7 linked regions of the Homo sapiens genome follow. The protein of the gene in region 5 interacts with the protein of the main gene of each other region in a pairwise test. Each region holds a gene or a part of one and is shown on either strand. Other genes may lie near its edges.

Region 1 (5,004 bases), on a different chromosome or scaffold from region 5:
CTCACCGCAATCTCCATCTCCCAGGAGCAAATGATTCTCCAACCTCAGCCTCCCAAGTAGCTTGGATTACAAGCGTGCACCACCATGCCCGGCTGATTTTTGTATTTTTAGTAGAGATGGGGTTTCACTATGTTAGCCAAGCTGGTCACAAACTCCTGACCTCAAGTGATCCGCCCACCTCGGCCTCCCAAAGTGCTGGGATTACAGGCATGAGCCACCGCGACAGGTCGCCTGCCTTCTTTTCGAAACTTCTGGGATGATCTTTTTATCTCTGCTCAAAAGACTCAGTCTCTGTCACGTTAAGAGATATTCCCACAGGCCTTCCTTCACACAGCACCATCCCTGCACACACCTCCTGCCCTTGCCTTTCTACCTGCCCGCCCATCTCTCCTCTCCTGCCTTGCTCCTGGCCCTCCCACCTGGCCAACACGTCTGTTCTCAGCACTGACCACCTCCATGAGTACCACGCAACTCACCCATCTGTTTAAGGTTGTTGTAGTCTTTTTCATTCCCATCTCCCTAAAATATCAGCTCCACGAGGGCAGGGGTTTTGTCTGTTTTGTGTTTTTGTTCATCTCAGTAACAGACTTACCTTCATAATTACATTTGACTCAGCTTAATATGGAGATAAATTTATGTCCCCTGGACATGCAATAACAGGTGGTGTCTCAGATGCTCTTGACGGTAGAATTTGGGTTTAAAATTCATGTCTAATCCACGATTATGATCAAGCTTTATCTTTTAAAACCCATGGGTGGCGCTGGTGATGAGACAGAGGTGTGGAAGAAAAAGACAATTGCAAGTAATTGCTATTCTTTATTTTGCCACTCAAAATAATTACCAAAAAAAAAAAATCTTAAATGATAACAACACAACATCAAGGCAAAGAGAACAGGAATGGCTGACTCTGCATAAATTGGCCGAAGATTATCCATTATCTTAAGGTTTGACTTCAGGTTACAGCACACAGACAAACATGCCCAGGAGGCTCTCAGGACCGCTCGATGTCTTCTGAGGAGGCTGCGGCGGGGAGATCCAGGAGGCGGTCGAGGGCACCGGCCTCTGCAAAGGGAAGAGCCACATCTGAGCAGCAACTTCTTAATATGCACATGAGAGAATTACAACCACGACACATGCTACAGGAAGCGGCGTGTGGTCGTCCTCTGTAAAGATTCTTACCAGATTAAACCCAGAATCAGGGACAACACTCTGTATTCCTCACTTCGTAATGATTTAACTCCCACAGTTAGTAAGCATTTAAAACTGTCAGACTTTTAAATTCAGGCTTTAAAGAGGTATAATTCCTAGCTGAGTAATGAGAGCTGGTATATCCTAAGGAAAGAGTTTCCATGTTACAAAATTAAAAACAAATGAAAAACAAAAATCTAGCAGAGTCCCTCTGCCCCTTGTAGGAAAAGTCACCCCAGCTTTTCTCCCAGAGGCTCCACTGGGCTCCAACAGAGGGAACTTGGTGACTCGGTTTTGAGATTTCTAATGAACACCGCCTTTTCCAAGACCTTCTCTGGCAGTCTCCTTCCCCCGCTCCCCTCCCCTCACTCCTCTTCCCTCTCCCCATCGCCACCTAAAGTGCAGCCCGATAACACTGCAAATGAAAAACATCCTGATCCAAAATGAACCCAAGGATTAGCCTTGATTTTTCAAAACTGGACAAAACTGTGATGTGCAACTGAAGGTCTCCACTGGAGAGGCTAACGGTCCATCCCTCCTCCCCACCACCAGCTCCCTGTTAACTCTCAGAGCAGCAGGTGAAGGTCTTCTCCACTGGAGAGGCTAAGTGGTCCATCCCTCCTCCCCTCCACCACCTCCCCCTTAACTCTCAGAGCACCAGGTGAAGGTCTTCTCTGCTGGAGAGGCAAAGCGGTCTATCCCTCCTCCCCACCACTGCCTCCCCCTTAACTCTCAGAGCACCAGGTGAAGGTCTTCTCTGCTGGAGAGGCAAAGCGGTCCATCCCTCCTCCCCACCACCACCTCCCTGTTAACCCTCAGAGCACCGGGGCCGCTTTCCGGCTCCCTCCACTGCTGCAGTAGGACCTGTGTGGTTATCTGATCAAGGCCAGATGCCCATCGTAGAATGAATGCCAAGCGTAGTGTGCGGAGGTCTCCTCATCCCCAGTGTTTGCAGAAGACACTGGAAGCCAGGATCAGAGCCTTTCCAGTTAGATTTCAAGGCAGCCTGCCTGGCAGGAAGGCTGCATAGAGAAACACTGCAGTCTAAGATATGGGCTTCTATTAATTTCCCATGCTTAGAAAATATGGTTTAGGGCCAGGCACAGTGGCTCACGCCTGTAATCCCAGCACTTTGGGAGACTGAGGCAGACAGGTCACTTGAGGCCAGGAGTTCAAGATGAGCCTGGCCAACATGATGAACCCCAGCCTCTACTAAAAATACAAAAATTAGCCAGGCATAATTGTGCGCACCTGTTTTCCCAGCTACCTGGGAAGAAGAGGCACGAGAATCACTTGAGCCCAGGAGGCAGAGGCTGCAGTGAGCTGAGATTGCACCACTACATTCGAGCCTGGGCGACAGAGTGAGATGAAGGAAGGAAGGAAGAAAGAGAGAGAGAAAGAGGGAGGAAGAAAAAGGAAGGAAGGAAGAGAAAGAAGAAAGAAAGAAAAGAGAGAAGAGAAAGAAAAGACAGAGAAAAAAGAAAAGAGAAAAGGTTTAGGACGGTTCACAAAGAACTTGGCCTGTAGTATACCTCTGCCCTAAAAGGTACAGCAGTTGTCACCGTGTGAATAGATATGGTTCCAGTAGAATGAGCTGCACCCTGAGGCCCACTCTCTTCCTGGGACCAGCGCTGGCCCGATGGCCCTCCACGACGGTAGAATGCCCCTGCCGCAATCCCAGCCCTCTGGAGCTAGCTCTAGTGTTACATTCTCTGTTATCCCGACACACAGCCAAACAGGACTTTGTACGTAGATAAGTAATCGGCTACTTCCCAGGGGGATTCTATGGGTTCTCTTCTCGATGGGCCTTTTACGTTTCCAGTGTACTAAGAGATGAATGTTAAGTTGATGATATTTCACATACCTTTGAGATGCAAGAAAGACAGAAACTCAATGATTGTGCGCATGATATTGTTTTCAGGTATGGACCTGTCAAAGCTTCCTAGAAGAGAAAAGATCAACATTCACGACTTGTGCAGAGGGTGCTTCAGTGTCTCAGGTCATCCCCCTCCCTACAGAGGAGCTGGGCGCTGCAAGGTCAATGATCTGATCCCAGCAGCCTGAGGCCCTGCTGTGCTTTCCAAGGCCCTTGTTCAATGTGAGGGAGTTGGGGAGATATCCAGTTCGAGGCCTCGCTTTTCTTCTTCTTCTTCTTTTTAATTGAGATGGAGTCTCACTCTGTTGCCTAGGCTGGAATGCAGTGTCATGATCTTGGCTCACTGCAACCTCCGCCTCCCAGGTTCAAGTGATTCTCGAGCCTCTGCCTCCCAAGTAGCTGGGATGACAGGCACCCACCACCACGCCTGGCTAATTTTTATATTTTTGGTAGAGACAGGGTTTTGCCATGTTGGCCAGGCTGGTCTTGAACTCCAGACCTCAGGTGATCCACCCGCATCAGCCTCCCAGAGTGCTGGGATTACAGGCAGGAGCCATCGTGCCCAGTCCCGCTCTTCTGGAGGCCCTGGTGCCTGGGCAGCCTCCCAGCCTAGAAGGACCCCTTGCTGTCTCGGGTTTGCACGTTCTGTTTGCAGCTGCTGACAGGTGTGGCGAGGCCACATCGTCTTAGTCAAGTCATGGCCAGGCTTGGGCTGCAGCTGTGGACAGCCCCGACACCCACAGCTGTCCCCTGCATGCACCTGGGAGCTGGTGGAAGTGAGGTGCCCCGGGGCCCGGGATAGGAGTCCTCTCACCTGGTTTCATGTCATCTTCGGGCCGCAGCTCCCGCTTGCTGGTGAGGCCATTCTTGTCGCTGAATGACCTGTGGTTGCCAACGGCATCTGTTTGCAGATCAGAGAGGAAAGCCTCTGGGTGTGACTGTCATGCACGCCCTCCCCACACCCAAAGAAGGACACAGGGCTGCCTGTAGCCAACACACACACGCAACTCGACTGTGAAATAGAGCCCAGGGACAGACACCAGAGCAGAGGGAGCGATTCTCCACCCAGCTGAGGTAAGAGCTTGGCCGCTCACACCAGGGTCAAAGGGAATGTGAGGGTTTGCACAGGGTGGGTGGGAGAAAGGGAGGTGTGGCTCCTGAAGTGGGGGAGAGGCCCAGAACCTGCCCTGTTGCAGGGGTTGCGCCTGGGTCCAGAGGAGCTGGCATCTGAGCTGGCACTGAGCTGGCATCAAACTGGGTGACTCCCTGGCAGACAACAGGAGCTGGGTCCTCATGTCCCTGAAAGCATGGGGGACGCTGAAGAGTTTAAGTTGTGACTGAATCTGATTTTTATTTTCACTCTGGCAGCTGTGTGCAAGATGGACTGGAGCCAGAGAGAGAGAAGGAGAGAGACAGAGGGAGCGAGAGGGTCACAGAGGGAGACAGGATGGGGGTGGGGGGTGCAGGAGCGTGTGTGCGTTCCCGTGTGTGTGTGGGTGTGTTTCGTGGTGCGAAAATGGAGGAACTGTGATTGCAAGCACAGAGATCCCAGAATTCCAGGGAAGAAACGATGAAGGCTGTAAACCAAGAGGCGTGGGGTGAAGAGGAGGGCTGGATTTGGGGCTGTGCAGGAAAGGAAATGGAAATGAGAGATGGGGACGAGGGTGAGGACGCCTCTGTGTTTCCAGCTGGTTGGCCTGGGTGGACTGTGCCATCTACAAGGCCAGACAAAGGAGAATTAACGCGTATTTCCAGAGATGCCGTTCTTGGTGCTAAATTTATAGAGGAATCATAGGTCGCCTCATGTCACTGATGCACCCTCAGCCACGGCCACACTGCGTTCAGCAGCAGCTGGTGCAAAAACATTGCTTTTGCTGCATTTCTAGCAGATCCTAGAAATCAAAGGCACATTTTTAAGTATTTTGACAAACAACTCGTCT
Region 2 (4,372 bases), on a different chromosome or scaffold from region 5:
CACGTTCCTCCCGGGACCTAAGAGGACCTTGGAGGGAACAGTCTGTGCTGGAGGGTGTGTACAGCCCCACCCACTGCATTCCCACTGAACCAGGACTGGGGCAAGGAGAGGCTCATCCCACCCTGTGGAGCTGGCAGAGAGTGCCCTCAGATTCTCCACCACGACCCAATCCCTAAACTTGAAATCCCCCGCCTTCCTGCCATGGAGGGAGAATGGGGCCCAGTGGCCCCTCACCACTCAGGCTTGCCCCACAGTGGGTGGCCTGGTACCCAGCTCTTCCAGGTCAGTGGAGTAGCAGGGGATCCTGGGACCCCCAGGGAAGAATTTCCAGAAAGCTGCAGGCTTGGCCTCCATTACCCCCTCTCCCCCCTGCCCCCCAGCTGGTCCCTCTGGGGTCCTGAGGTGAGGGGCTTTCTAGAAGCATAGGTAGTGGGCAGAGAGTGGCTACGGGGAGGAGACCAGGGGAGCCTGGGGCCGGCCCACTGTGTGGCAAGAAAGCAGAATGGAGAACGGGACGAGGTGGGCTCACACCGGAGATTGGACCCTCCCCTGCAGGGGCACTCGAGCCCCTTCTTGGTGACATCCAGCAGCTGGTGGCCTGCAGACCTGCTCTGTCAGCCACTCACCCAGAGGCAGCCTCGCCTCGCTGGCCTGGGAAGGGCTGGCTGGGGCTCCTGGACTCGGCCCCTAGCCAGACTCAGCCCCTCCCTGAACTCTGTCCCCTCTGCCAGCCCAGATGAATGGCTGTGTGTGTGTGTGTGTGTGTGTGTGTGTGTGTGTGTAGCAATCTGTTCACTTTTTGCAAATCTATTTTTTAAAAGTTTCTTGGAGGCTGCTCCTGGCAGGATGGAGGTTTCTTGGGGGTGGAGGTGGCTGTGGCCATGCACTCCTTTGGACGTGTCCTAGATGACATTCTCAAACAGCTGCATGGAGCTCATGATGTTCTCATCCTGCATGGAGAGAGGAAGGGAGGCCTTCAGGTGCTGGGTGGGCTCCAAATCCGACCCCCTTGAGCAGATTCCCGCCAGGGACTCGGAGCCTGCAGCGACTGCCTGTCTGTCTGTCTTATTGGGTGCAGGGAGCTGGGGGACAGGGAGGTGAAGTAGCTGGTCCGAGGTCCCCAGCTGGTGAGGCACAGCCTGTCTTCAACCCCACTCCTGACTGCAAGCCCATCTGGGATGAGCTGATGAAGGCGATCCCGGCTGGCCTCCAGAGGAGGTGGGCGCTAACCAGGACTGCTCTGGGAGTGGGGCAATAGAGGCGCTGGAGGCCCAGCATCCTGCCCCCTGAGGTGCTCTCTGGAAGGGCCAGCAGCAACACTGCGGAAGCTCTGGTGCCTCCCCACGGTGACCCTCTCCCTCTGGCTGGCCCCATGTCTGCCCCTAACTTGAGGTTCTCCAGGGACTGGGCTGAGGGAGGGTGTGGGGGTAGTGGGGGGATGCTGTGGGCTGCAGGGGTGGGTGGGGAGGAGGAGACTCAGACAAGAGGGCAAGTGGAGCTTGGGGCTGTCCAGGAGGTGGCAAGGGGCCAAGGACAGCTGCCACATCCTGGACTGGCAGGGGTGGGACTGGGGTGAGGGAAGGGGCAGACGCTGCCAACCACCCACCTCCGTGTAGAGCCTGCAGAGAACTGTGGCCCAGCCTCCCGTGCCACCTACCTTCTGACAGGCCTCCAGGAACTCTTCAATGGTCACTACCCCATCCTGGTTCCGGTCCATTTTCTGCAACCCAAGCCATGCCCAAAGTGAGTCTGTGCCCCAGCAGAGACAGCCCCGCCCCTGGCCTGAGGACGCAGAAGTCATGGGTGGGTGGATGGGCGGGTGGGTGGATGGGCGGGTGGGCTCCCTCCACTCTAACTTGTCCCCTGTGACTACTCTGGATCCAGGCCACATAATCCACCCTTCATAGCCACCTCCCAACCAACTGCTGAGGCTCCAAGCATCTCCCCACTGCTCCCCTAGGCCAATTCCCTGAGCCCTCCTGGGCTTGGGTTTCCCAGAATTTGTCCCCATGCTCATCTGACCGCCTCACCTCCCTGAGAGGCAGCCAGGGCAGAGGGAGCAACTGAGTCACAGGATGGCCCATGTCTAGTGGCCCCAGCAAGTAGGAGGCAAAGCCTGCAGCCCCTGCAGCCGCCATGCATACAGGTGAAGGCCCCCAACCTGCTCCTCTCCCAGAGCGTCTTCCTGGAGGAGCCACACAGCTCTCAGGAGGCATGGAGCTCCGGCCCAGGGTCAGCTGCCTCAGGATCCCCAGCTCTGGCCCCCAGATGAGGTCCACAGGGCAGAGCAGTGGTGTAGTTCACTTCTCAGGGGTTCTGACAACCAGCCAGACTGGAGGGGCAAGTTTAACCTCCTCATGGGGAGTAGGGAGGCTCAGAGGGGCAAGCCACTTGCCCGGGGTGGCCCCAAAAGCGAGAGCCCCTTCCTCTGCCAGGCTCCCCTCCCTAGGCAGGGCTGGCGCTCGCTCACCTCGAAGAACCTCTCCACGTGCTCCGCCGGCGCGTCCTCCCGCAGGATGGGGTAGGTGTGGCGGCCCATCATGTCATAGATGGACTTCATGATGGCCAGCATCTCCTGGAGGGGGAGGCTGGCATGAGCCTGCTGCAAGGCCGGGGTGGCTGTGAGGGCCCAAAGGGAGCGGGCGGCATCCAAGGGTGCAGGGCACCTCCAAGGCAGTGAGTGCGAGGGGCCGGACGAGCTGGAGAGAGAAGCCTGTCCGCTTCCAGGGCACCCAGAGCGAGCTTCTGACTCTAGGGGAAGCTCATCTCCCAGAGAAGTGGGAGATGGATTGCTATGTGCTTATCTCCAAAATGTGACGCGGCAGCAGAAAAAGTGCTTGGACCAAACAAAACCTGTCTGTGGGCCCATGTGCGAGGGCTCCCCTCTCCACCCATGCCTTAAGGGACCGCACTGCCCCCTTCACTTGATGGGGGCCAAGGCCAGGACCTCTGGCTTCTCCACTTAAATCTCCCCGAGGCCTTTTGTGTAAGACAGTATGACCGAGAACACTTGCTGAGCTGGACCGAGATGTGTGGTACAGGGTACCTGAACCCACACTCCACACCGGGGTGTCCAGGACCGAGCCCAGGAGAGGAGAGCCCACTGGCTGCTGTCCCTGGGGCCAGTCTCTGGATGGACAGCGGGAGAAGACAGGTGGGCAGCAGGAGCAGGGAGAGGAAGAGCGGCGGGAGGGGTGGAGCAGCAGGAGGGGAGGAGGGGACAATCCCTGCCCCCAGCCCCCTACTACCTCTTTGGTGATGTAGCCATCCTTGTTAATGTCGTAGAGATTAAAGGCCCACTTGAGCTTCTCGTGGACTGTGCCCCGCAGCAGGATGGAGAGGCCAACCACAAAGTCCTATGGGGAAAGGAGAGTGTGGGGCGTGACATCCAATCAATGCCCAGGTTCTAGTTCCAGTTGCTGTGTGGCTTCCACTGAAATTCACGCCTCCAACAGGCACAGAGCCTCCCTAAGAGACTGACGGCATCCATTCAGGTCAGCACAGGGTGAGTGTGTGCCCGTGTGTGAGCGCATGCACGGGTGTGCACCTGTGTGTGTGAACTTGTGTGAGGGTGTGCACCTGTGTGAGAACTTGTGTGAGGGTGTGCACCTGTGTGAGGGTGTGCATCTGTATGTGTGAACCTGTGAGGGTGTGCACCTGTGTGTGCACCTGTGTGAGTGTGTGAACCTGTGTGAGTGCATGCGCATGTGTCTGCATGTGTGGCAGGAGTGGCATGGTAGCTGATACTGATGCCAGAGAAAGATATTCAAATATATATGGTGTCCTAGACCCATTTAATGCAGTGCTGCCGCTGGAGACGCCTGGGGTACTCTTTTAATAAAGGAGGTGCTCTATGTTTATTCTGCCAAGCATCTGCATGGCAAAGGTGCTTGAAAACTTCCAGATTAAATAGCTAGAGGAATGATGCTCAGCTTTTTGTTTGTTGTTGTTTTTAGAGACAGAGTCTCAGACTGTCACCAGTCGCCATCATGGCTCACTGCAGTCCCAAACTCCCAGGCTCAAGCGATCCTCCACCTCAGCCTCCTGAGTAGCTGGGACCACTCGGAATAATCCATGCCTGGCTAATTTATTTTATACTTATAGAGATGGGGTCTCGCTATGTTGTCCAGGCTGGTCTCCAACTCCTGGCCCCAAGTAATCCTCCTACCTTGGGCTTCAGAAGTGCTGGGATTACAGGTGTAATCCCAGGGCCACCTCGCCCAAACCTGGTGCTCAACTCTTGAGTCATGACATGCTGTGTGTGGCCATCGCCTTTGGCATGGGAAACTTTACTACTAATATGACAGAATATGGCTGTTTAAATGGTTTCCATGTGACAACTTCAACTGTTTTGTTACAGCAGTTGGTAGAA
Region 3 (3,929 bases), on a different chromosome or scaffold from region 5:
TGTGATGTCAAATGGGGAAACTAAGACCCACAGTGTTCAACATGAGTAATCATTTGCTGGTTATAGGCTGAAGCCGCTTGATGGTCCTCTAGAGCCTAAAATCTCTCAGCAGGAGGCCCCGTCATCCTCTTTATCTCTGCACTCCCACTCACACCACAGGGGCTCCAGGCTTTCCATATCAGAGGGTCTTAGAAGTGGCAATCTTGTTGGAAGCAAAGTGTTGTGAAGGGTCTTGTCTCGAAGTTGCATTTGCATTTGGTCACAGTATTTGCATTTGGATTGGATGTTTGCTGGGGAAGGCTTGGGGGCTGGGGAGGATGAAGTCATTGCCTGGCACAGGCCTGGCACAACGTAAGTACAGTTGACCCTCCAACAACATGAGTTTAAACTTATTGGGTCCACTTACATGCAGATTGTTTTCAACCAAAAGTGATAGAAAATGCAGTATTTATAGGATGTGAAACCTGCATATATGGAGGCCAAATTTTCTGAAAACACGAGTCCCTCAGGGCTAGCTGTGGGACTTGAGTATCTGCAGATTTTGGTATGGAGAGTCCTGGGACTGATCCTTCACACATATGGAGGGACAACTGCACTAATAATTGGGTGTCAAATGAATGGACTAGCCTTCCCTTTTCACAGCTTACCTCTCTTACCTAACGGAGTCATGAAGAAGTGATTGAGAGTGTAAGAAATAGTTCTGTTTATTGGTTAGAACATGGTATAAAATTACAGCAATTTGCAGGCATTCTGGACTTCTTGGGAGGGACATGCAGCGCTGGGCTCAAGCAGGGGATGTGGTGGAGATATGGACCACTGGGCAATGGCTCCCTTCCTGGACATATTAAAGGACTTGTACTACCAGCACAAATGCCAGTGTGAGAGAATTATTGGTCCTCGTTTCTGGAAACAAATGACATGGGCAGTTTGGGTCATCAGACAATATCATGCTTAATAATTCAGTCCTATCCCACATATGTTAGGTGCTGGCTCTCCCAATCTGGTCATGACAGATCCTAATTGTTCTGGATAACTCTCATTCTTCCCACCAAAGGAAGAGAAACAGGCACATTGGTTTGGGAGGCCATCAGAGATGGTGTGCATCTGGCTCAGGTCCTCTTGCTTCCAGATTCACCAAGGTCTGCCTGACTTGGAGGCAGTGGGCTGGGGGCACGTAAGCAGCATATTTTGTGCACTACTGTTTAAGCTTAAGCAGAGGGACCTTCCATAGGGCAGCAGTGTGAGGAGATGAGCATGCTTCCAAAACAAACTCAAATTTCATCTTGTCTCTCTCAAGAAGAAGAAAGAGGAAGAGTTGGCAATCAGAGACTGAGCCACATGATGCTGGGTTCCATAGAAAGTCTTCAGCAGAGAATTCTTCCAAAGTGTAAAAGGTGTTTCTGTCCCAAGAGTTGGTGTGTAAAATCAGAACAAGGGCAGATCAGGGTGTTAAGGTGGTTGTTTAGTACAATGTCTCTGAGAGCTGAATGGCTGAGTGTCACCAGTTACATGACATTTTGAAACAGCTGGAGAGACCTCATGATGTTGTCGTCCTGGGAAAAAAGGAGGGCAAGAGGGTTAGAACTCTGAGTCTCCTCCCTGAGAGCTCTGTAACTCTGGTGAGCAAATGTCAAGCATGGGTTTCCTATATGGAGAAAACTCTACAAGGGTATGAAAAACAAGAAGTAAGGGTGGGGACCTAGAAAGTGATCAGTTCAAAGTAAGAAGCACCACCTGTAGCCTTAAAGAGGAATTCAGAAGAAACAAATCATCTAGTAAAATAGTGAGTTGCTTCTTTTAAGAAGCTCTGAACAATTACATCCACTGAAATGATTATATTTTTTCTCTTTTTATTCTATTAATGTGATTAATTACACTGACCAATTATTGAATGTTAAACCAACCTTGCATTCCTGGAATACTGCTTTAGATCCTACAAATTTTGATAAGTCATATTTTTATTTTATTTTTATTCGAGATATTTTCTTCTCTGAACCATGAATTAGAAGTGTATTGCTTAATACCGAACATTTGAGGATTTTTCTACATTCAATACTATACCTCAGAGAAGAAATAATAGAAAAATGTAAAATACAGAACATGCAATAGAGACATACAGTAAGAAAACCCCCCAAAGCGCTCTCTTTCAAAAAAATCAATAAAGTAGATAAATGCTTATTAAGACTGCTTTTCAAATTATCAATATCAGAAATGAAAAGGTTAATGTCAGTATAGGCTTATTTGGCTCATTATTCTGGCAGCTGGAAAGTTCAGCTGGGCATCTGCATCTGGTGAGGGTTTCAGGCTGCTTCCACTCACAGTGGAATGTGAAGGGAAGCTGGGTGTGCAGAGATCCCATGGTGGGAGAGGAATCAAGGTTGGAGGTGGGGAAGGTGCCAGGCTGTTTTACAACCAGCTCTCAAGGGAATTAACAGTGAGAACTCACCCCCAAGGGGGTCAGTGTTCATTCCATTCTAGTTGTTAAATATCTTGGATATCACCCTGCACATAGGACATCTACATAACAGGGTGGCTGTGATGTTTATGTATGTGCTTGAAACTTGATGGGGGCTCAGTATCTGCTAGGAACTTCTCCCCGGCTTTCTTACATTTGCTATTCTTCTTGGCTGGAGCTCAGAGTAACTCTGAACATTTCTAAAATAATGTGGGGGTACAAATGGATTTCTCAAAAGTAGATGAAGCAATTATTTCCAGTTCAGTCTCTGGTGGACTCTGGGGCTGGTCTATTGGTTAGACTTAATGAAAGTTGTGTTCCCAGGATCAGCATCACCAGTGTGACTGGGGAGAATGTGAGAAAAGTAACATCTCAGGCCCTACCCCAGACCTATGGAATTAGAATCTGCATTTTAACAAAATCATCAAGGATATTGTTTCACACATTAAAGTGTTAGAAGCATTGGTCCAGGACATTTGTGTTAAAGTGACCCAGATCTAGAGTCTCTGGGATTGAGGCCTGGAAATATGCATTTTCAGAATCATTCCAGGCAATTTTTATGCACACTGTGGTTTGAGAATCACACAATTGTAGGTTTTTTTCCCCCCAGCTGCTTCCTTGTAGTCTGGGAAATGGGTCATCAAGCCAGAGGCAGGCTAAAAAATAATGGTGTTGCCCTCTCGGGAAGTCTATTTTCACAGAGACCCCCTCTGAGTTTTCACATGCCCCCAGACCCCTACTTAGGCTCTCTGTTCAGTCTTGTGCTTAGCCAAGACCAACTGCAGGTCAGGTTGAGGAGTGGAACTGTGGACTTCACAGTTGTTGCTGGTGTTGTTGGCTCTGATGGGAGGGGTTGCAGGTATGTGCAGGTTTCTCATCACCTTCCTTCTGCAGGTCCCCAGGCCCCAGGTTTCCTTTCCCAGATGTAGAGTTATTGTGCCCTGAGATCTCTCCTTACCTCCTGACATGATTCAAGAAATTCATCTAAAGTTACGATGCCATCTTTATTTTTGTCCATTTTCTGAAAGACATAACAGAAAGCACTTTACAGAATCTGGTGATCTCCATTCCAAAGCTTACTCCCCTGCTTTCTTGCTGGAGCTCAGAGTAACGAGCTGGAGCTCATTTCATTCATTTCATTAACCAACTTTGCCCTGAGAATGAGAGTTGTCTTTCACTGGCCAGACAACTCCAATTAGGTCCTGATTACAACACTTTGAGCCCCATGAGCTTCCTTAAATCAAAAGACTTGCTCTGGACACTCATCACCTCACTGCTGGCTTATTCTGCTTCTTCTGTAGACTCCCTGCTACCCTGTCCATCTGGCAGAACACTGGGCAAAAGAGGTTCTGATTCTGGCCTGTTACTTGCTGTACAAACTTGCACAAGGCCAGAGAGGACTCTCTTTTCCCATCTGCAAAGTGGGAGGTTGAACTAGAGTGAACTCTTGATATTCTCTGATACTCCACCGCTA
Region 4 (5,030 bases), on a different chromosome or scaffold from region 5:
CCAAAAGCCATCATTTTAATAACACAATATTAGTGTTCTACCAGGCAGTAAAACACTGTAATTAAACATGTGATAAAGCTCTGCCACCCATTGGGTATTTGCTCTTGTCTTAGCAAAGAGCACTCAAATCAGTCATGGAACAGCCATCAGTGCAACACAAAGTTTGTAAATCTTGTCTTGACATCACTGAATGCTTCTTTGACTTCCAAAGCTCTTCAGTGGGCATCTGTCCACCCCAAAGACGGTCTTCCCCTGAGGCATCCACCTTCGGAAGGTTTTGCGCTGGATTTTCCTCAGAAAACTCACGTTTATGTGGGAGCTGGAAGGAGTTTCCTGTCTCAGCTGTATGGAAGAGAAAAAAATAATACATCCTTAGACAGCTCCTACAAAGAAGGCAGCAACCACATTCCACTCCTGGGGAAATGAACTGGATCCCTAAAATGAAATAGAATCATACACATAATTTTTTAAAATGTTGGCCTGGTTTCAGAGAGATTAGACATTTTGGGGAGAGCACAGTCATCTCCACTGTCCTCATTTTACAGAGGCAGAAACTTGAGTGCAAAGATGAGGAGTGACAGTCAGTGTTGCTCAGCTAGTCGGGACTTGACTTCTTTTACTCGCTACCTCTGCTGGATGACCAGCAGCTTCCAATATTAGTTATGTGCTATAAACAAAAAACACATAAACAAAAAAAAACCCTGTGTATGCCCTGCAATCTCGATCAGTAAAGAAGGAAATGGAGATTTAAACCTCTATATCTGAAAATAAAAAGTGAAATTCACAGTTTTTGCCTAAGTGTTGTTTCCAAAGTTCATATATAAGCTTCTCTCACTTTAATTTAGTTCAAATTGACTTATCAATGCCTTAGCACACCAGCAGGCACCATGAAAAACTAGGTGAACAGATGCTGGTTGGTAAACCAGTAATTGATCAGATAAATAATGTGTGGGAAAACACTGAAAATCTGAGAAAGATTGAATAATAAGTAGTATGATTTCAGTGATGTCCAACAGAGCTAGCCTTATAGATATCCATTCCACTCCCCTATGTGTTTCAGAGATATCCCAAATGTATTTTTATAGTGCATTTTGGTTTGCTATTACAGAGATTGTTGTAAATCCTGGTAAATTATGCTTACTCTCTTAAGATTAAAAACCCATATAATTTTTGTTAGCAACTAGTCATATGAACTTCAATATTAAAGTGGTACTGAAAATGGAAAATACATGCTTTTTCAACACATTAGCCCACCCAAAGATGAACAGTTTAGGTCATTTTCTAAAAGGTTTTTATTACCAACATCATTTTAAATTAAACTGAAACCTTAACAATCATACATATAGTCGCAACATTTATTATGTAATCACATTTTTCCTTTTTAACTTTTTAGTATAAAACATAGCAAATACAACCAATTATTAAAATACACTCTTAAGCAAGGCACAGAAAGACAAACACCACATGATCTCACTGATATGTGGAATCTAAAAACGTCAAACTCAAAAATGTATAGCGGAGAACGATGGTTATCAGAGGGTGAGGGTGAGGGGGATGGTTGGGGAAGAGATGGTCAAGAGTACAGAATTTCCATTAGAAGGAATAATTTCAAGAAGTCTATTGTACAACATGGTGACTATAGTTAATAAAAATGCATTGTATTCCTGAAATTGCTAAAAGAGTAGATTTCAAGTGTCCTCATCACAAAAACATAAGTATGTGAGGTAATGCATATGTTAATTAGCTTGATTTAGCTATTCCACATGTATATTGTATGTATACCTATTTCAAAACAATATGTTGTACACAATAAATGTATATAATTTTTACCAATTAAAAAAATAATTTTTTAAATAGGATTTTCAGCCATGCCCAGTGGCTTATGCCTGTAATCCCAGTGCTCTGGGAGGCCGAGACGGAAGATTGCTTGAAGCCAGGAGTTTGAGACCAGCCTGGGCAACATTGCAAGACCCCACCTCTACAAAATATTTAAAAATTAGCCAGATGTGGTGGCACACACCTGTAGTCCTACCTACTCAAGAGGCTGAGGTGTGAGGATCACTTGAGTGCAGGGGTTTGAGGCTTCAGTGAGCTATGATTGTGCCAGCCTGGGTGAGAGGGCAAGACCCTGTCTCCAATCAAATAAATAAATAAATAAATAAAAATCTAAAAATAGGATTTTAAATAAATTCTACCTCATACTTTAATATGGAATTAACAGAAAGAATTTCAGTCAAATTTTTAAGTTAGTTGAATTGAATAATAAAGAAATATAGTGAAGTCAGCCGCTTCACCGTTTCTGAAAGACATTTGGTTCATTTCTTCCTTCAAAATCCTGATCAGACAATTCCTACTACTAGAATTCCCACCCTGCTTCCCCACCACCTTCCATAATCCCCAAATCCTTCAGGGCCTCTGTCAGTAACCACCACCTCCATGATGCTGTCACCTATTACAAAATAGGTGACATTTTGTAATAGGTGACATTTTGTAACATTCTCTTTCCCACCCGAGACTCAGTATGGAATTAGTAAAGACCTTGGCTCTTGAAGCCAGATAGACCCAGTTTCCTACCTAACCACATTTTCACCAGCTGGGAGAAGAATTTTCTTCTTGGTAAAATGATAAATGGTGGTAATTTTGCTTGCTTCCCAGGATCCTTATCAGAAAGCTGAATGAAATGTTGCACATGTAACTTCCCAGCACTTAAAAGTGCTCAATTAAGGTCAGCTTCTTTCCTTGCATCCATATTTAACAACTGCCGGAATTCTAACTTATTATATTGTACAATTATTCATGAGTGAAAGTCTTGCTACTTCAACACGCTCCTTGAAATCACATGCTTCGCCATAGCCTCCAAAGTACCTTCCACAGATGCTGAGCCCATTGAAGTAGTCATGCGATTAAATGATTTCAAGCAGGGGACTAAAAAATGAGGTAGTTATTTTTTGAAAGGTAGCATGCTCATCACTTTCCCAAGCCAAATTCAGTATATTTTGATAATTAATCCCTTAAATTGACATAAAAAATGCCTCAACAGTACTTAGAGAAACACTTAATAAAATAATGGTTTAAAACACAGCTTGAAAAAATAAAAGAGACATGTGAAAGGAAAATAGAGGAGACACATGAGTTACTGTTACCTTGCTGAGCTTGAGGGATCCCCTCCTGATGCCTTCTCCACCTGGAGCTAGCACAGATATAGATGACTGTCCGTATGTATTCTAGCCCACAGAGTCTCACAGACTCCTTGCTCCGCACTTCTGAGATGGCAAATAGGACAGAGAATAAAAACAGAGTGAAAATGGAGCCCTTCATTTTGCTGAGGACTGAATGTGAATCTGATATGGTAAATATAGTCAAATCAAATTCTGGAGTGACTGTCACTCTCTTGACCAATTTATACTAACTTTCCTGACATTTCATTGGTCAGAACCTCATTTTTACAATATTTGCTAAGCACATAGGGTTACACAGTAAAGTTTTGAAAATGCGGTTTTATGAGTATTGCCAGCTATTCAGTCTCTCCTTAATACCATCAACGCATCTGTGAGATGATAAAAACAGATGCCCTCTTGGAAGGCATTATGGAAAACTCACGGACTTTGAAAGTTGCCAAGAATGAGTTTCACTCTCAGCCTTGCTACTTACTGAGTGACATAAGGCAAGTTTTAAACTTTTTGAGTTGAGGCAAAGCCTGGTGGCTAACACCTGTAACCCCAGCACTTTGGGAGGCCAACACAGATGGATCACTTGAGGCAAGGAGTTCAAGACCAGCCTGGGCAACATAGTGAGACCTCCATCTCTACAAAAAATTTAAAAATTACTCAGGCACAATGGCATACTTGAGCCCAGGAGTTCAAGGTTACAATGAGCCATGACAGTGCCACTGTACTCCAGCCTGGGTGACAGTGAAACCGTGTCTCTAAAAAACAAACAAACAAACAAGTAAACAAAAAAACCTTTTGAACCTCAATAACCATATCTCTGGAATGGGAAGACCCATCTCACAGGGGTTTTTTTGAATATTGAAAGCAATATGAATGTCAGAACAATGGGATATCACACTTAAGTAGGCAATTTCTTATGTCCTGAGTTTGAATCCTGGCCGTTGCTGTTGCCTGGCTGTTACTTACCAGATCTAGACTCTTAAGCAAGTTTTTAAGGCATCCTTCTTTGTAAAATAGTGTTGATGATTGTAACTACCTCATAGGTCTAATGTGATAACATGCGTCCCACTTGGTACAATAAACAGCTAATAGGCCAGGCGCAGTGGCTCACGCCTGTAATCCCAGCACTTTGGGAGGCCGAGGCAGGTGGATCACGAGGTCAGGAGATCGAGATCATCCTGGCTAACACGGTGAAACCCTGTCTCTACTAAAAATACAAAACATTAGCCAGGCGTGGTGGTGGGCACCCGTAGTCCCAGACACTCAGGAGGCTGAGGCAGGAGAATGGCATGAACCCGGGAGGTGGAGCTTGCAGTGAGCTGAGATCACGCCACTGCCCTCCAACCTGGGCGACAGAGCGAGACTCTGTCTCAAAACAAAAACAAACAAACAAACAAACAAACAAAAACAAAAAAAAACAGCTACTAATTATTAGCTGCTTCTCCTCTCACCATCAGAATAGAAGACTAGAAAAGATAACTTCAGAATTCAGAAGATTTTATCTGACTAGGATCTTGTTATCCTTCACCTATGACCTAGGTACACTTTTCTCAACACACGTATTTATGATAATAGAAAGCTAAGTCCATATCCCAAATAGCTAAATAATGAAATTTCTCTTTTGGTAAAACCTCTGAAAGCACTAGCTCTTGCAAAGGTCTTACCTAAACTGAGAATCCCAGAGTTTGGGATCTTAAAGAACTGTTGACTCAGGTTTTAGCAAGTTGAACAAATAATGGTTCAGTTGATTCTGTGAAATCCTTGTCTGTGATTCCTGGTTGGAAAAAAATTGCTAAGTCTGTGGCCATGATCATATCATTTGTACTTCTTGTGAAATCACTGTTCTTCTGTAGGGAAGCT
Region 5 (4,372 bases):
CTTGTAATTGCCAAGCCTATCACTGCTTTAGCACCCCTGCACCTGGTATATCTTTTGCTGAGATGTGTTTCCCACCCCGCCCAATCACATCTTTCAGACTGAGCATAACCTCCCTGCCCCCATCATGGTGCATTCACAACTGGATTCAGGTCCTGTATCTGCCATTGATTAGCCATGTGGCTTTAGCACAGTTTTTCAAGTTCTTCATCTTTCAAAGTAGGATACCAGTACCTGCTTCACAGGGAGGATATAACAGCTGCAGAGGGCTTGGCCATGCCTAGAGTCTCATGACCCCTTAGGAAATTTTTCATGATGAGACTCAAAGATAGTGTTCAATGTTAGACTGGTTTCGCTACAGAAAACAGGAATACTTCCACTGAACAACCGCATACGAAAGCTAAATCCTGCTAGTGTAAAAATCATCAGATTTCACTGGATAGAATGAAAGAAGAATAAGGAAAGAGGAATATGATAAAAATAAAAAGAGAAGTAAAATTTGTAGCAGAAATTCAAATTGGTGATTTGCTGAATAGCAGAAAATCTAAAATGAGGAAAAACAGTATTGCAAGCTATGAGGAGAAGATAGAAAACAAATAGCATCAACATAAATAGGCCTGCCTGATTCTCTAACACCTGAGAGCATTGCCTTGCCACGCTAAAGGGAGAGTAACTAAGGAAGGCTTCTTGCAGTCTGGGCTGGGGTTGTGGGGTAGGGGGATTCAGTAGCAGTACAAATGACAATGTTGTTATTACTGTAATAATGGTGATAATGACACCTAAATACTTAGGGCCAGGCATTTTTCTAAGTGTTTTAATCTTCATAACAATGTTACAAATAGATATTATTCCCATTTTATGGGAGGGAAATCTGTGGCACAGGGTAGTTAAGTAATTTGCCCACAGTCACCCAGCTGGTATGGAAGAGCCTGAATCTACAGCCATGCATCCGGACCCCATACTCGTCCTAATCCCTGAGCTGCACTGCAAAGCCAAGTCCTGCCCATTCACTTTCTTTAGAGTATTATACACAGGAGATACTCTGCTGGAAGCCAGGTCAAGTTACATTGGGATGCAATACCCAGTCTTAACCATGTTGCAGTGGAATCATGCAACATGTCCAACCTCTACACAAAAGAAGCAGAGCAGTTCAATATATCATAGAAGTTAATCACAGAAGAGAAAGTGGGCATCTTTGCATAACTTGAAGCCTAATAGGAACATTTGAATGCATAGTATGATTCAGGTAAACCTGTGACCTAGCATATAATTTATTTTTATTTATTTTTAATTTAATTTAATTTATTTATTTATTTATTTTGAGACAGAGTCTCACTGTGTCACCCAGGCTGGAGTGCAGTGGCACCATCTTGGCTAACTGCAACTTCTGCCCCCCAGGTTCAAGCGATTCTCCTGCCTCAGCCTCCCAAGTAGCTGGGACTACAGGCACGTGCCACCATGCATGACTAATTTTTGTATTTTTAGTAGAGATGGGGTTTTACCATGTTGGCCAGGCTGGTCTTGAACTCCTGACCTCAAGTGATCTGCCTGCCTCAGCCTCCCAAAGTGCTGGGATTATAGGCGTGAGCTGCCATGCCTGGCCCTAGCATATAATTTAGATAGGTGGCTAGTCACTCTTTGCTATAGAATATTTGAATAGTCATTTAAAGTTGTTACCTGGAATTCTATGTCAATTCCCAGGAAAAGGCCATAGAGTAGCCTTTTCTTTGACCTGAGGATAATTGAAGAGGCAAATATATTAGTAATAATTATGAATTCATTTATTCATTCATCAAATATTTATTGAGTGCTTCCTTTAGCTAGACATGGCCCTAGGTGACTGGGAATATATAATGGATAAAATATATAAGCTTCCTGTCCTGATGTGTAACATCCTAATGAGAGGAAACCTGTCCCCCACCACATATACTTAGGCAGATTAGCACTTGGCCAGAGGAAGAAAATAGCTGTGGAGTGGACAATGGTGTCTTCAGCGGCCGAAAGGAGGGGCAGGGGAAGCCCCAGCAGCAGGAGCAGGTGTGTGGCAGCCCTTCACAAGGGGCTTTCATGTCTCAGTTGTATGTTGCCAGTGTCACTTTGTTCATTGTCATAGTTGAGGGAGAAGACTTGCAACAAGAAGATGGACCCACAGGAGAACCACAACAAGAGGATGATGAGTTTCTTATGGCGACTGATGTAGATGATAGATTTGAGACCCTGGAACCTGAAGTATCTCATGAAGGTAGAACACTTTTTTTTCAAGTTTTAGGATAAAATATAATCAATGACTTCTAATTACTGAAGTTTTTCTTAAACCCCTTTAAAACTGATATTTAACTTTTGCTTAGATTTTTAAAAGTTGAAGCTTAAAGCTTCAATTAAAGCAAATTTTTTCTTAAAATAGATACCTTGATTTTGGTTCAAAGCACTTTTCAGGGAAACTCAGAATATACAAATTTCTTATAAATAGTGAGTCAAATACTTGAGGAAACTAGTTTTACTATATTCTTCTGCTTAGGGTGCTATTTGTTAAATAAAATTCAAACAACTGATGAAATATTGGACTTGATAATCTATCACAGGCTCATGTTCACACATGAACTCTGTAATTACAGTGAGCAAAACACAATTCTTAGCTTCTGTACCAGGCATTGGCAAACTTTTTTTTGTAAATAGCCAGAGAGTAAATATTTCAGGTTTTCTGGATCGTACAGACTCTGTTCAGCTACTCAACTCTGCCATCACAGCGTAAAAGCAGCCTTTGATAGTTCCTAAGTGGGTCAGTGTAGCTGTGTTTTTATACAACTTATTTGTAAAATCCTACCCAACATGGCTGGTAAGTGCAGCGGCTTGAACACAGCTCACTCCAGCCTTGACCTCCCATGCTCAAGCAGTCCTCTCACCTCAGCCTCTCAAGTAGCTGGAACCACAGGCATATGCTACCATGCCCTGCCAATTTTTAAATTTTTTATAGTGGCAAGGTCTCCTTATGTTGCCCAAGCTGGTCTCAAACTCCTGGCCTCAAGCAATTCTCCTGCCTCAGCTTTCCAAAGTGTTGGGATTGCAGGCATGAGCCATTGTGTGTCCAGTTAGCAAACACTTTTTAAAAGCATAAAAATGAAAAGTAGTTTATCTACTTTGCACAATACTAAATATTTTGGAAAATTACTTTAGCAGCAGGTAGCTCCTACTTTATGAGTACATGTATTTCCAAAAACTTATATCCATGCCTATTGTTTAGAACAGGAAATGCACTTTCCCATAAAAATATGGGATGGTTTGGTTTTCAAAAGAATTGTATATAATGCATAATTTTCTGTGAAAAATACAAGCACACAATCCTTTTGAACATCTATATGATTTATTTTTGCTGCATTACACATTGAAAATAAGCACTTATAGACTACCTTCAGAACTTTATGCCTTTAGTAATCATTTATGTCATGATTTCTTTGGGACAAGGTTTCCAGTTTCTGAGTAGGGATACTGATAAAATGATTTCCACATTTCCTGTTGCTTCTTCTCTCCAGTCTTTGGCCTAAATGGCTCAGTAAGATTGACAGTTGCTCAGAATTTTTCTATCTACATGCTGCTTATACAACAAATTTCAGTTAAGATGCTGAAATAAACAGAAGCATGAGGAATTTGATATTCTTAAAGTTAGGAGTCACAGATTGGGAGTAGGAAGAAACACTTTTAAGAAGTTCACAAATTGCAGAAACCTTACTTTCTGATCTCATCTTTAATTAGGACATAGATGCAGTTTGAACTTAAAAGTTGGTTGTTAAAAGTCTTCAGAAAATAAAAATATTTATTCTTTATATATGCATTAAATAAAATTAGCAAGGTCATAAGTGTGGTGACGGACAGATAGCTCTTCTGCTATCTGGGGTGTATGGGTTAAGTGTTCAACACATTTACCCTTCAGCTCCCTAAGGGTATAAAGCCTCTTCAGCTGTTTTTCTCTGTTCCCATCCATAGTTGCTGTACTTTCGCTCTAGAAAATGGTAGGACAGGTCGAGGAGATAGCACATTCTAGTGGGTTGTGAAGTGGATTAGAAATGAACGGCTTTCCTGGTCTGGCCTGTGTCACTCTAAGTTGTCCTCTCTCTTTAGTCCAGGGGGTGGTGGTTGTCAGCCTTGTGGGGATGAGTGGACTGAGAAGGAGAATGTGTGAGACATCCCACAGTGTACTTCTAGTGAAATATAAAAGTGTTAAGCAGACTTTTAATTGATAGTCCCATTTTTTAATTTTTTAAATAAAATTAATGATAAGCATAGATTCAGAGTACATATACGGGATATATACATACCATTTTGTAAAAGCAGTAAATATCAATCTAATTTTTTTTTTTCCAGAAACCGAGCATAGTTA
Region 6 (4,372 bases), on a different chromosome or scaffold from region 5:
AACTAATTTGCTATTACTTTTCAGACTTCAGATGAAAAAGCACGTACTTGTTTAGGAGATGTAACTGAAAGCTATGTGGTGTGTGTGACTTCAGACTGCAAAACTTAATACAAGATTTTCAGTTGGACTAATGAAAAGTGCATTCTAGATTTTTTAAATGTGCACAAAAGAGGACAGCAAAGAGATGGGCATGAAATAAAGTTTTATTTTAACTACAGTCACAGAGTGTGATATGCGGGGTATGCAAGGCAGCAGGCAGTGGGTTGGTGGTGGTGCTAGGATTGAGGAAAGACAGGTCACACTTCATCATGAAATGTGTCGTTACTTTAAGATTAAGATTAGGAATTTAGTCCTCCAGAAAATACAGAGTTACTGGTGATAGAAGAGCTATTATATTTACTGGCATTTGAAATAATCCTGCAGGAGAGGAGAAAACAGGTGTAAAATTGTAGAAACAGGAGACAGAGAGACAGCCCAGGAAGATATTGAAAAATTCTGTGAGATATAATAGCACCTGAAATAAAGATTATCTCTGATTCTGACCATAAAGAATGTGATTATATATCATAAAATGCCAACAATTCTACCATATTCTTTTCCCCTAGGACTGGAAAATAAATACAAAGAAGTTCTTTTTTGTTTTCCTATAACAAATATTCAATAAGCATGTTTCATTAACCCTCTAATGTGCAGTTACTAATATATCCAGTATTTGTTCACCAGAGTGTTACCTAGAAGGTCATTCTGGGGTATCCACTTGTACAGCCGAGTATTGAGACCTAAGGCATCTGGTTTATTCCCGTCAAATCTCCACAGAACCTGTTACAGTAAAGAGAATATCTTATTCCATGAGTGGAACTCAAAAATTATAGAATGTTAGAACTGTAGAAAGCATAGGAATGAGATCAAGGGATGTTAGTAAATAAATCTACTCAAAGATTGATGTAAAAAGAATACTCACATTTTATTTTCTTAACTTTTATAATGATTTAGATATATAAGAAACCATGATTTTCCAAAACAGTACCATAGAAAAATAAGACTATCAATGAAAAGTTCAAATATTCAAAAAATTGTTACACTTTTTAAAAGAAGACCTACCTGCAGTCAACCATCATATGAAGAAAAATAACATCACAGATCATTAGAGAAATTCAAATCAAAACCATAATGAGATAGCATCTCACACCAATCAGAATGGCCATTATTAAAAATTCAAAAAATATCATGATGTTGGCGAGGTTGTATAGAAAAGGAATGCTTATACTCTGTTGGTTGGAATGTAAGTTAGTTCAACCATTGTGGAAGACAGTGTGGCCATTCCTCAGAAACCTAGAGGCAAAAATACCATGAAACCCAGCAATCCCATTACTGGGTATATAAGCAAAGGACTATAACTGGTTCTTTTATGAAGATCCATGAAAATATATGTTAGTTGCAGTACTATTCACAATAGCAAGGACATGCAGTCAACCTAAATGACCATCAATTATGGAATGAATAAAGAAAATATGGCATATATACACTACGGAATATTATGCAGCCATAAAAAAAACAAAAATATGTATTTTGCAGGGATAAGGATGGAGCTGGAGGCCGTTAGCCTTAGGAAACTAACATAGGAATTGAAATCCAAATGTGACATGTCCTCACTTATGAGTGGAAGCTAAAAGATGAGAACACGTGGACACATAGATGGCAACAACATACACTGAGATGTATTGGAGGGTGGAGGGTGGGAGGAAAGAGAGGATCAGGAAAAATAATAAACGAATATTAGTCTTAATACCTGAGTGATGACACAATCAGTACAACAAACCCCCATGACACAAGTTTACCTATGTAAAAAACCTGCACATGTACTCCTGAACTTAAAAGTTAAAAATAAAAGTTAAATTAATTTAATTTAAAAAATAAAAATATTACAAAAAAAGTGTAAAAAATTATATGGAGTGATTGTAATTCTAGTGTAATAAAACAGTTACTATTTAGTAATGACCTGTATGTTTGTTTTATGTATTTTATATTAGTTTTCATCTCCAAATTTAATTGTAATGTATTCGTTTATTTTTGAATAATATGAGAAGTAGTTTAAATGTATCTACTTGTCGGTAGGTTATTATATTGGAGCCTGTTGTCCTTTGATTGACAAAATAGCAAGTCTATAAAATAAGCTACTTATAAGAACTAAATAAATGCTGCCAAGATTTTATGTATAACTTCATTGGAATTACAAATTATCAAGCACTATTTCCCAGAAAAATTTCAAGCGACAATTTTTGACACAAATTCAGAATATTACCATTATTGTTAATTTTGGATTTTTTTTTGGCCTAGAAATGAGGAACCTTTTGGTATCATGAATAAAAATAAAGCTAATGAATAAACTCAAAATTGTACTTTGCTAAATTTGGTCAACTGATTATTAACACTTAGATAACGTGCTACAAATCTTTGTCAACAGTGATTAATATGTTCTGCTATAGCCAAGACATTCTTATTTTAAGTTACTAATTTTGAAACTCCAAAGCAATCCTCACAAACTGAACAATAATTTGCAGTGTTTAACTTTTATTTGCTACATCAGTGTTAAAGTAACTCAGGTTTCAGCAAAAAGTTAGAGGTCATTACAAGAAAGCTTTATCAGATAGGAAATTAAAAAGTCATTCACAAATACACAAAGGTCCCTGGTTTACTCTATACAGAAGAAAATATATTCCTACTATGTTCTATGGAGGGGACATCTGAACCTGTTCCCCTGCCTCTCTTCCTTCTGTTTGACTCCTTCCTATATTTCCTTCTGCTGCCTCCATTGGGAGGAGTTGTTAATCTGGTAGTTAGTGCTGAGTCCTTGTGGGACCATATTTTATACTGTACAGGATCCACCTTCAGGTCAGGATCCATCTCCATCCTTTCTCTTTCATCTTCCTGCTTCAGGCAGTGTTCTCTATTTGTTGTCACATATTTCACATAAGCATTTGACTTAAAGTACAAACAGAAATAGTACATTCCTTAATTGTAAACATTCACCAAGAGCTTCCAGAGTACGGTAAGTAATAGAGGTGGCCCAAGAGTAAGTGAAATCTTCTTCACTCATTGGATACTGCTGAGATTAGCAAAACAGCTTTGAAGAAAATGATCATAAGTCTTCCTTGTATTTCTACAAAGATGCAGTTCTGGATATATATTTTTAGTTGAAAACACTTGAAAGTCATTCTAAAGACTACATTAGGCACCATTTTCACTTACCTGAAATATATTCAGTTAATTTCAGCAGTATGTATGACTCTTAATATCAGAAATTAAAAATAACCATGAGTCTCAAGTTCCCTGTTGTGGATACCTACGGAGTACTGAGTTCCCACTGATACTAATAGGAGCCACTCATGAATACCAAGGGTAGTAACTCCCCCAGGGCCACATGTAACCACTAAGTCTGAGGCACAACTATTACTTGTGTTGGTGGAAGCAACATAAGCATATTTAAGGATGTATTTGGATGTAAAGAGTTCACTCTACTCTTAATATTCTTTCTATGTAGATCACAAACATTAACAGCCTCTTTCAGCAGTTTTCCACACCAGTAAGGCCCTTTATCTTACCTTTTGTGGGATCTTGGCAAGGGCTGTTGCAATTACATTGGCCCTTTCTGCTGTCATGTTACTTATCACTGACCCCAGAGAAAACACCACAACACCATTTTCTCCAGAGCTCTGTACAAACTCCTCCATTTCCTGTGAAAAAAAAATTGTTTCATCACAAAAGAGTATCACCACAGCAGGCACTACTGAAAGAATTGGTACCAAATATTAAAGAGAGAAAATCAAGTATTTTGAGGAATTATTGGAATTAATAATATTTTTTAACTGAATCATTCAGTTTCTTTGCAAGAAGATGTTTGAGATAGTTGGCCTCTGTTAAGGATATTTGTGTAAATATGTGTGTATATGTATGTATGTGTCTGCATGTGTGTAATGGAGGAAAGAAATGGAGCTATTACATTGTAGTCAGGGAGATAATGTTAAAAAATATACCCAGACCCTTCACTTATAATACTATAATTACTAATATAAGTTCTTGGAATAGTGGCACCACTCGGCTTTAATCCTATGTTTTTGTTCTACTAAATCACTTGTGTTTATTTCAGGCATGTTTTCTGTAGAATTCTTTTAGTTTGAAGCCATTAGTGGTCTACTTCCCTAAATATGAGCACTGAGGAAAAGATATTCACAGTTGGGATAATTTTATATCTACATTTATGTTCCTCTACAATGCTTTATGCTTCACTTAAAGTTTGTCAGAGTTTTCCAGTAGTTTTTCAAAAAATAAAAAATGAAAATAAAAGCTGGTGGTTAAGAATCACTGACATTCC
Region 7 (4,372 bases), on a different chromosome or scaffold from region 5:
ATGTACCTACAATATTTTTTCTTAAGAAATTCAAGTTTTGGGCTGGGCACAGTGGCGTATAGCTGTAATCCTAGCACTTTGGGAGGCCGAGGTGGGTGGCTCACCTGAGGCTAGGAGTTCAAGACCAGCCTGGCCAACATAGTGAAACCCCGTATCTACTAAAAATACAAAAAATAGCTGGGTGTGGTGGCTTGTGCCTGTAATCCCAGCTACTTGGGAGGCTGAAACACAAGAATCACTTGAACTCGGGAGGTGGAGGTTGCAGTGAGCCAAGATCGCGACACTGCACTACAGCCTGGGCAACAGAACAGATTCTGTCTCAAAAAAAAAAAAAAACGAAAAGAAAAGAAATTTGAATTTGTGTTTTGAGTTTGCCTTGAATTATTGTCAGGAGACAATAATTCTGTCATAAGGAGATAACTGGAAAAAATAGGAATGGGTTTTATAAAACAATCATTGACTCAATCTCTAGCTCTTCTACTCTAAAGTCAGGTAATATGTGGTGCATTAGGTTAGGACTTTTATGTTAGTCATATGATGCATGGGTAGATCTTTCTATGTTTTCTCTTTGAAAACTACTAATCTGCTACTCCTTTTGGCTATAACTCACAAACTCTTTTCTCTTCAGACTATATAAAGACTTTAGCTAGAATGCTTCACTTTTTTATTAAAGAAATTGCTGTTTCCTTCCAAGGACAAACATTTTAAAAATAAATGATATGGGTCATTCATTCGGCAAATATTGGACTGCCTGTAGTAGATTAGGCACTGTGTAGGACACTGGCAATATACTGATGACACAAGCTACCCGCTGCCCCTTAGCAAGTCATTTTTGCAAGTCACTTTTATGACATATTTATCTGAAATAGCCCATCACTTATTAAAATCACCTGTGACATCATGGCCTGGCACGGTGACTCACGCCTGTAATCCCAGCACTTTGGGAGGCCAAGGTGGGTGGATCCTTTGAGGTCAGGAGTTTGAGACCAGCCTGGCCAACATGGTGAAACCCCATCTCTATTAATAAAGTATAAAAAATTAGCCAGGATTGGTGGCAGGCACCTGTAATCCCAGCTGCTCGGGAGGCTGAGGCAGGAGAATTGCTTGAACCTGGGAGGCAGAGGTTACAGTGAGCCGAGATCGTGCCATTGCACTCCAGCCTGGGTGACAGAGGAAGATTCTTGTCTAAAAAAAAAAAAAAAATCTGTGACATCAGCTAATAGGTTAACTTAATTAAAGAGAGCAATTCTGGCCAGGCACAGTGGCTCACATCTGTAATCCTAGCACTTAGGGAGGCCAAGGCAAGCGGATCACCTGAGGTCAGGAGTTCAAGACTAGCCTGGCCAACATAGTGAAACCCCATCTCTACTAATAATGCAATGCCTGGTGTGCACCTGTAATCCCAGGTACTCAGGAGGCTGAGGTAGGAGAATGGCTTGAACCCAAGAGGCAGAGGCTGCAGTAAGCGGAGATTGCACCACTGCACTCCAGCCTGGGAAACAGAGTGAGACGCCGTCTCAAAAAAAATAAATAAAAATAAAAATAGGTATTCAACTTATTGCTTAAAAATGTATACAATTTCTTTGTAAAATTGTTACTGAATTTTTATTTTAATTCTTTTTTTTTTTAATAGAGACAGGGTCTCACTATGTTGCCCAGTTTGGTCTCAAACTCCTGGGCTCAAGTGATCCTCCTGTCTCGGTCTCCCAGAGTGCTAGAATTACACGTGTGAGCCACTGTGCCCAGCCTGTTACTGGATTTTTCTATCATTGCACTTATTTTTTAATGTCTATAAAAAATTTGAAAGACAAATATATTAATACTTATGTTTTATTTATGCTTCCAAATAACTACACAAAATCACTTTCTAAAAGATGACTCATCTATGCTTTGCAATTTTTCTGCCCATGCATTTCTTCTCTGTGCCACCTCTCTTCTGTGTTGATGATAGGAGAGTACAGTTGTCTCTCAGTACCTGTTAGAGATTGGTTCCAAGACCTTCTCATGGATTCCAAAATCCACAGAAGCTCAAGCCCCTGATACAAAATGGCATCACATTTGCACATAACCTCTGGACATCTTCCGGTGTACTTTAAATTATCTCTAGATTACTTATAATATCTAATACAATGTAAATGTTATGTAAAAGATTGTTATATTGTATTGGTTAGGGAATAATGACAAGACAAAAGTCTGTACATGTTTATTACAGACACAACTATCCTTTTTTTGTATGAATATTTTCAAGCCGAGACTGGTTGAATCCACAGATGCAGAACCCACAGATATAGAGGGTCATATCCATGCATTAATAAAAAGTTTATGATTTTTACTTAAATTAATCAAGAAATAGTGGTCCCATAGGTCCTTTGAATTGACTTGGTTTGGAAACATATGGAAAAAATATTCCTAAAAAAGTATTTATAAAAAAAAGAGAAAAAAAAACAAAAAAGAAAACTATTGAAAAGCCGAAAAAAGTTATAAAAGATGAGAAAAAATTAAAAATTGTGAGTATTCAGATAGCAATTCTTATCAACATGAAATAATATAATATGGTTATGGCAGTTCATGAATAGATATTTGAACTATATCTTTACATAAGTTAAACTGTTAAAATTTATACCCTTAGCAGAAGGCAAGATTCCACCGGATGCTACATTGATTTTTGAGATTGAACTTTATGCTGTGACCAAAGGACCACGGAGCATTGAGACATTTAAACAAATAGACATGGACAATGACAGGCAGCTCTCTAAAGCCGAGGTAATTCAAACCAATTTCATGTGTATAGTCTAATTTTTTTATCACAGTTTAAATACATCTGTGTTACAACTATTACTTTTTAGGTCTAGCTAGCATGGGCTCTGATCACTGCTTTTATAGAGCTGGTCACTAAAAAATAATCTAAGCGCTTAGAAAAAGCTCTAAGCTTTTTCAGTATAAACCTTGTGAGTCATCCTGTTCAATTGCCTTTCTCCCTGCAAGAGAGTCATTAAAATCCCGAATTATTTGTCTCTACAGTGCTCTTCCAGTTTCTAGATTACACTAGCATATCTCTTTTTCAGACAGCACTGTAAGAATTTGCAACAGGGCAAATAATTCACGCCTCATAGGATGATGAAAAGAGCTAGCAAGGGTCTGAATTGAGTGGGCTAGAAAGTTGGTAAACAGGAGCCAGAAGTTCAGCCAGCTAGCGTCTGTATCTCAGCCTTGTAATAAAGATCTTGTAATAATAATGATAATTGGGCTGGGCATGTGGCTCATGCCTATAATCTCAACACTTTGAGAGGCCGAGGTGGGAGGATTGCTTGAGCCCAGGAGTTCAAGACCAGCCTGGGCAACACAGGGAGACCCCCGTCTCTACAAAAGATTTAATAAATTAGCCAGGCATGGTGGTGCATACCTGTGGTCCCAGCTACTCAGGAGGCTGAGAGGTAGGAGGATCGCTTGAGCCCAGGAGGTTGGGGCTGCAGTGAGCTGTGATCATGCCACTGCACTCCAGCCTGGAAGATAGACTGAGACCTTGCCTCCAAAAAAAAAAAAAAGATAATAATAGATAACATTTATTTTATACTTTTAGTACCAGGTACTATTTATAAGCACATAAGTATGTGAACTTATGTAATCTTCATGATAGTTTATGGGGCAGACACTATTGTCATCATCTTCGCTTTTAGATGGGGAAAATAATAATCAGGTTAATCAGCCAAAAATCACACAGTAGTAAGGGGCAAAACCTGGGCAATCTGGCTTCATGACTGTTCTTACATTTCAATTTTTTAAATTTTTCTTAGAGACAGGGTCTTTCTCTGTTGCCCATGCCAGGGTGCAGTGAAGTGATCATAGCTCACTGCACCCTTAAACCCCTGGGCTCAAGCGATCCCCGCAGCATGCCACCATACCCAGCTAATTTTTTTTTTTTTTTTAAGAGATGGAGTCTCACTACATTGCCCAGGCTAGTCTTGAACTCCTGGCCTCAAGTGATTCTCCTTCTTCAGCCTCCCAAAGTGCTGGGATTACAGGTGTGAACCATCATGCCCAGCCCACTACTATATTTTTAACTTTGGGCCTAGACTGCTTCTTTCAGAGAAAATCATGAATGTTTCAAGTCTAATACTATTTATTGAATTCTAATGTCTTACTTAGTCCCACTGACGATACTCCTGCTTAAAATTAGTAAACCAGCTGTCTCCCCTCTTAACTAGTTAGGAGACATTTAAAAATGTGTAACTCTACCACATAAGTAAGTAGTAAAAGCTAACTAGGTTGATTTCAAGTAATAAAAATAAGTCTTTTTCTCTGTTTCTTTTTCATCTCCCTCTCCAATCCTTTCCCCACCCAGTTCAACTTCTTACACCAGGATATTAGTAAT

What was found.
Region 1: the proteins of ASPH (region 5) and GAL interact in binary tests that used the Homo sapiens proteins (3 or more experiments, as listed by UniProt).
Region 2: the proteins of ASPH (region 5) and KCNIP3 interact in binary tests that used the Homo sapiens proteins (3 or more experiments, as listed by UniProt).
Region 3: the proteins of ASPH (region 5) and KCNIP1 interact in binary tests that used the Homo sapiens proteins (3 or more experiments, as listed by UniProt).
Region 4: the proteins of ASPH (region 5) and INSL5 interact in binary tests that used the Homo sapiens proteins (3 or more experiments, as listed by UniProt).
Region 6: the proteins of ASPH (region 5) and UGT2B11 interact in binary tests that used the Homo sapiens proteins (3 or more experiments, as listed by UniProt).
Region 7: the proteins of ASPH (region 5) and FKBP7 interact in binary tests that used the Homo sapiens proteins (3 or more experiments, as listed by UniProt).

Annotation. Positions count from the first base shown.
Region 1 is NC_000011.10:68,686,975-68,691,978, reverse strand, and holds the end of GAL (galanin peptides preproprotein), read right to left. Parts: intron 4,139-5,004; exon of another isoform or gene 3,976-4,138; intron 3,966-3,975; coding exon 3,879-3,965; intron 3,188-3,878; exon of another isoform or gene 3,131-3,187; coding exon 3,053-3,130; intron 1,063-3,052; coding exon 992-1,062; 3' UTR 804-991; downstream 1-803. UniProt on the Homo sapiens protein: Endocrine hormone of the central and peripheral nervous systems that binds and activates the G protein-coupled receptors GALR1, GALR2, and GALR3.
Region 2 is NC_000002.12:95,380,580-95,384,951, reverse strand, and holds part of KCNIP3 (calsenilin), read right to left. Parts: intron 3,357-4,372; coding exon 3,249-3,356; intron 2,576-3,248; coding exon 2,471-2,575; intron 1,721-2,470; coding exon 1,658-1,720; intron 951-1,657; coding exon 903-950; 3' UTR 1-902. UniProt on the Homo sapiens protein: Calcium-dependent transcriptional repressor that binds to the DRE element of genes including PDYN and FOS. Affinity for DNA is reduced upon binding to calcium and enhanced by binding to magnesium. Seems to be involved in nociception.
Region 3 is NC_000005.10:170,733,383-170,737,311, reverse strand, and holds the end of KCNIP1 (A-type potassium channel modulatory protein KCNIP1), read right to left. Parts: intron 3,477-3,929; coding exon 3,414-3,476; intron 1,554-3,413; coding exon 1,506-1,553; 3' UTR 680-1,505; downstream 1-679. UniProt on the Homo sapiens protein: Regulatory subunit of Kv4/D (Shal)-type voltage-gated rapidly inactivating A-type potassium channels. Regulates channel density, inactivation kinetics and rate of recovery from inactivation in a calcium-dependent and isoform-specific manner.
Region 4 is NC_000001.11:66,797,904-66,802,933, forward strand, and holds the start of INSL5 (insulin-like peptide INSL5 precursor), read right to left. Parts: upstream 3,374-5,030; 5' UTR 3,319-3,373; coding exon 3,144-3,318; intron 343-3,143; coding exon 110-342; 3' UTR 1-109.
Region 5 is NC_000008.11:61,644,617-61,648,988, reverse strand, and holds part of ASPH (aspartyl/asparaginyl beta-hydroxylase), read left to right. Parts: intron 1-2,110; coding exon 2,111-2,239; intron 2,240-4,356; coding exon 4,357-4,372.
Region 6 is NC_000004.12:69,204,749-69,209,120, forward strand, and holds part of UGT2B11 (UDP-glucuronosyltransferase 2B11 precursor), read right to left. Parts: intron 3,735-4,372; coding exon 3,603-3,734; intron 820-3,602; coding exon 732-819; intron 1-731. UniProt on the Homo sapiens protein: UDPGT is of major importance in the conjugation and subsequent elimination of potentially toxic xenobiotics and endogenous compounds.
Region 7 is NC_000002.12:178,468,043-178,472,414, reverse strand, and holds part of FKBP7 (peptidyl-prolyl cis-trans isomerase FKBP7 isoform a precursor), read left to right. Parts: intron 1-890; exon of another isoform or gene 891-978; intron 979-2,629; coding exon 2,630-2,763; intron 2,764-4,372. UniProt on the Homo sapiens protein: PPIases accelerate the folding of proteins during protein synthesis.